Linked DNA regions of Homo sapiens: region 2 is linked to region 1. A link means that fine-mapping ties the variant in region 1 to the expression of a gene that starts in the linked region. Tissue or cell type: whole blood. Region 1 holds a variant in brackets; the other region holds the start of a gene. All regions are shown on one strand. Distances are from middle to middle.

Evidence for each region. PIP is the estimated chance that this variant, and not a neighbour inherited with it, causes the effect.
Region 2: it holds the start of ABCC10, and the variant in region 1 is fine-mapped to the expression of ABCC10 in whole blood (TOPMed, PIP above 0.99).

Annotation. Positions count from the first base shown.
Region 1 is chr6:43,450,691-43,453,371 of GRCh38, forward strand. DLK2 (delta like non-canonical Notch ligand 2) reads right to left here. Exons shown (of 6, transcript NM_023932.4): 4 at 2,315-2,445; 5 at 1,250-1,394; 6 at 1-584. It also overlaps a transcript of ABCC10 not described here. Among named protein-coding and RNA genes, the nearest start is that of DLK2, 3.5 kb to the right of the region's middle. The variant C/A (reference allele first, on the strand shown) is at 1,218.
Region 2 is chr6:43,426,179-43,428,859 of GRCh38, forward strand. ABCC10 (ATP binding cassette subfamily C member 10) reads left to right here and starts at 1,363. Exons shown (of 22, transcript NM_001198934.2): 1 at 1,363-1,579; 2 at 1,790-1,961. The coding sequence starts at 1,801. RefSeq lists an enhancer at 1,940-2,009.

The DNA.
Region 1 (2,681 bases):
GGCGCCAGGCCCTCAGGGTCAGCAACACAGTAGCCAGAACCAGGGCAGCAGTGAGGGCCCCAAACACCACCAGGGCCACCAAGCTAGGCTCACCTAGCCCAGCCTCTTGCCTCCGCACCACCTCCTTCACTGAGATCCGCAGCAGACCAGCCCCTGCGCTGTGGGGGGCTGGCCCCGTGGCAGGTACCACTACAGCTGAGGTGGGCCCTAGAGGGGTGTCCACTGTGGTTGGGGGGTCTGGGACAGGTAAGACAAGCTCACAGGTCTTGCCACCATAGCCACTGGGGCAGAGGCAGTCGAAGTCGTGGACACGGTCCCGACAGCGGGCCCCTCTCTGGCATGGGCGGCTGGCACAGTCATCCAGGTTGATGGTGCAGAAGCGTCCAGCAAAGCCCTCAGGACAGAGGCAGGAGAAGCGGTTTATGCCGTCAAGGCAGGTGGCACCGTTAGCACAAGGCCGCATCAGGCAGTCATCCACATTTACCTCACAGCGGGCACCCACAAAGCCCACCAAGCAGCGGCACGTGAAGTTGAGAGCAAAGCCCTGGTCGTCCTGGCACTGCCCGCCATTGCGGCATGGGGAGCTGTGGTAGGGGTGAGAGAGGACATGATAACCAACTTACCAACACCTGTAGGGCAGCCCAGGTCAGTATCCTGACCACTGCCCGCCATGTCATCTTGGGCTACACACTCCGAGCCTCAAATACCTCATTTTAAAAATGAGAATAAAAATAGTACCCAGCTTCCCTAATTGTGAGGGTTGAGTGAAATAATCAATGTCAAGCCATTAGCACAGGGCCCAGCCAGAAGGCAGGGCTCAGGGTAAGTGTGCTATTATTATCCTCACAGGCTCCTGGGCCTGATGCAGAAATGAGGACAAGTCCAGCCCTGCAGGCTGTTTCCTCATCCCTACTGTGACACAGAAGGGTGCAAGCCAGCGTTCAGGAGAGGATGAGGAGAGACCCAGGCCCTTCAGTCTCCCCACACCCACCCTCCCCAACCAGAACAGTCACACGTTTGTTACCCCTCTAGCTCCTATAGATTGTTGAAGAAATGGCTCAGAAGGTACAAAAAAAAAAGTTGAGAAACCCTGAACTAGGAACACTTTGGCATGCAGGGGTTTTATCTGAGTGTCCCCGTGTGGGTCTGACTCTCAGTCCCCCACCCTCCCAACAGTCCTGCCTCTTTTCTCATCCCATCACCAGGTTCTGGTCTAA[C/A]CTTCCACTCACCCTGAGGGCCCAGCACTCACCCTGCCTGTTCACAGGGTCCAGCCTTGCGCTCGCAGTCACGCCCATGGAAGCCTGGTAAGCACACACAATGGTACTCACCGCCCCCGTCATACATGCACTGGCCTCCATTCTGGCAGGGGGACTGCGTGGTACAGATATGTTCATCTGGAGAGGGGACAGGAAAGGCTCTGGGATAACCCCTCCCATCTGGTCCCCAGACCAGACTTGTCCACGCCTTCCAGGCCCCAGGTTCTGTAGGTGTGGCTATACTACAAACCCAGCCCAGGCTGGCGTGGTATGCTAGGGAGAGACAACAACACTGAATTTGGAGTCAGGAGGCTCCTGGCCCTGGCTCTCAGTCTGTCTCAAACTGACCTTGGGCTGGGTACTGTGGCTCATGCCTGTAATCCCAGCACTTTGGAAGACCAAGGTGGGCAGATGACTTGAGGTCAGGAGTTCAAGACCAGCCTGGCCAACATGGCAAAACCCCATCTCTACTAAAAATACAAACATTAGGCCGGTACAGTGGCTCATGCCTATAATTCCAGCACTTTGGGAGGCCAAGGCGGGTGGATCACTTGAGGTCAGGAGTTCGAGACCAGCCTGGCCAACATGGTGAAACCCTATCTCTACTAAAAATACAAAAATTAGCTGAAGTGGCGGGTGCCTGTAATTCCAGCTACTGGGGAGGCTGAGGCACGAGAATCACTTGAACCCAGGAGGCGGAGGTTACAGTGAGCCGAGATCGCACCACTGCACTCCAGCCTGGGTGACAGAGTGAGACTCCATCTCAAAACAAAACAAACAAAAAAACCTGACTTTGAGCAGGTTATAGCTCTTCTGTGGGCCTTAGTTTCCTCATCTGTAAAATGAGTACAATTTTTAGCAGCTGTGTTTCCTGCCCCATGGGGTTATGTTGAGGATCAATTCAGACAACATATAAAAAGTCTAAGATTTAAAAAAATGATAAAATACCATGTATTTGAGGGTTTGACAAGGACAAAATAGGCACTCAATAAATACTGATGGCTGTTCCCCTAAGAACATGGGGTTCCCAACCAAAAGCTACCCTTCCTCCCCCCTACCTTTGTCACAGAACTTGCCTGCCCAGCCACTGTGGCAGATGCACTGCCATGGCTGGTGGCAGGTACCGTGCTGGCAGCCAGGCATCCTCACACAGCGCTCACAGTGCAGCCCCTCCCAGCCCGGGTCACACCTGACGGGGAGAAGCACAGGGTCAGGGCTCTGGGTCATGGATGTGAAGAAATGGAGGAGACAGAACCAGAGCTTCTAGAAACCAAGAGGACATATGACAGCCCCTAAGGGAAAGCAGACCTGTCCCAGGTAGGTGTAGGACTGTGCAGGGTCATAGGACACATATACGGAATCAGACCATCAGACACCAGCACTCAAACCCTGGTTCTGTACTTTAACCTGAGCCTCAGTTTTCTC
Region 2 (2,681 bases), 25 kb before region 1:
CCTGGCCAGGTGCAGTGGCTCACACCTATAATCCCAGCACTTTGGGAGGCCAAGGCAAGCGCATCACCTGAGGCCAGGAGTTCAAGACCAGCCTGGGCCAGGTAGCAAGACTCTGTTAATTAATTACTAAAGATTGTGAAATGCAAACCTACATCTCTTAGTTTTTAAAAATAGGAAAATTAATTCTTGACGTTGAGGGATATGGGGCTTCTTACTGAGATTAAGTGGGATAACCATAATTGTCATTTGTTTAGCTTTTCTTCTTCAAGCACTGTACACACCTATGTAAAGGCGGATACCAACACCATGCCTGACAAACATAATAAAATAAAGATGCAGAAGTAACCTGCCCAACATCCCTCTGCTAAAAGCATTCAAACCCAGGTCCGTATAATTATAAAGGTTATGTTCTTCCCACTGCTTCCTTAAAAGATTTATTGGAGGACTACCCTAGGCAAAGCACTTGCCCTAAGCACTCTAAATTAATTATTCAACTCTCTCAACAGTACTTTAGTATTGGTATTGTCCCTGTTGTACAAATAAAGAAGTTGAGGCTCGGCCGGGGTGGTGGCTCACGCCTGTAATCCCGGCTCTTCGGAAGGCCAAGGCGGACGGATCACGAGGTCAGGAGATCGAGACCATCCTTGCCAACATGGTGAAACCCCGTCTCTACTAAAAATACGAACAAAAAAATTGGCTGGGCGTGGTTGCGCGCGCCTGTAGTCCCAGCTACTCGGGAGGCTGAGGCAGGAGAATCGCTTTAACCCGGGAGGCGGAGGTTGCAGTGAACCGAGATTGTGCCACTGCACTCCAGCCTGGTGACAGAGCGAGACTCCGTCCCCCCCCCAAAAAAAAGTTGAGGCTCAAAAAAGTTAGGTAACTTGTCCAAGGTCATGCAGCCCTAGAATAATAAGGGAAAACAGTGTGTCCCAAAATGGCATTATTTGTCCGTGGGGCAGGTATGTTTGAATTTCCATCCATCCATCTATCTATCTGAGACTGGGGTCTCGCTATGCTGCTTGGACTGTTCTCGAACTCCTGGGCTCAGGCCATCCTCCTGGGATCTACCGGCGCGCAGAGACTACGGGCGCGCAGGGACTACCGAGGCGCGCAACCGTGCCCGGCTCCCCACCTCTTCAAGAAATGGAGATTGCAATGCTTGTGCCAACTAGTAAGCTTACACAGTTGTGAGCGAATACTCCACGTGAGAGGTTATAAATGACGTTGCACTAAGGGAGGGATGGATCCTTAACGCAAGTCAGGCCACAAAAGCGTACCAAAACGCAACTGTGCGTCTGCACCAGCGCGCCTGCGTGCAAAGGCCAGCCGAAGCAGAGAGCAGTGCACATGCGTGCAGCTACCAGCATATGGGCGTGGCGAATAGCGCCGGCTAGGTCTTCCAACCTCTAGGTGGGGTGCCAGCCGGGGCGGGCCCAGCACCCCGGCCGGGCAGTACTTTTTTTTTTTTTGCATACACCAGTTCTCAGGATATCGGAATCCGGTGCACAGCAGCTTCTTCAGGTTTGAGGTTCCGGATGCCTGGGGGCGGAGAAACGGGAGGGGAAAAACAGATGGCAAGGTGGGTGACCAGCGTCCAGAAATCCACTGGGGAAACCTCCTCCCGTTTTTACCCTTGGTACCGCGAGAATGGGCGGGGTCTGGCTTCGGGGCGGAAGCGACGGGCGGTCCCGGTTCCAGGGCGGGGCTGGAGACAGGGAGACCCGGCTGGGAAGTGCAGGCAAAGCCGGCTGTTACCCTGCACAGCCGTCACCCTCAACTTTCCCTTCAGGTGAGGCGTCCATGGAACGACTTCTGGCCCAGCTGTGCGGCAGCAGCGCAGCGTGGCCGCTCCCGCTGTGGGAGGGGGACACCACAGGCCACTGCTTCACCCAGCTGGTGCTCAGCGCCCTGCCCCACGCGCTCCTCGCCGTGCTCAGTGCCTGTTACTTGGGCACCCCGAGGTGGGTAGAGACGGGCGCAAGGCATCTGTCCATGTGTGCCTGCAGATCTCACCCGCGGCCTACATCTTCCGGCAGTGTCACCAGAATAGCGAGGTCTCTGGAGTAGGGCAGAAGTAGAATAAAATCTAAGCATTGCTACTTAGCAGCAATGTGGCTGTTCTTGGGCAAGTACCTGCCTTCTCTGAGTCTCATTGTTGGGAGGTTTAAATGAGATAATGAATTTAAGCATATAGTGCAGCGCCTGGCATGTTTTTAAAGGTCCGATGAGTATCAGAAATCATCAGAATTGTCCATTTTCAGCTACCCGGACTCAGCTGTCATGAATTGGAGGCAGAATTGGGGGAACAACGTTTTTAGCCAAAAGCGATGATGTGTTTAAGTTGTAGGCTCAGTTTCTCACCACTGCAACCCATGAAACCTTAGTGTTTCCAGATTAAGAAAAGCATACCTAGGCTCAGCTGAAGAGGAAGCAGTAGATAGACAAGAAGAGCAAAATCAAACATTAAGCCTTCCCCAATTAAGGGCTATAAGGTGTGGATGCTAAACTCAACTTGATTTTGTATTTAGTTCTTGTATGGCTAGAGATGACTAAAGTTAGTCTCATTCTGGCTGCCGAGAAGATAGGAGGACGGTGTGGTCTCTGCCTTTGGGAGTTCCTAGTCTGATGGGGGGAAGTGTCTCTATCCAAGAGGTCTTTCTTGCTTTCTCATTAGACTGAGT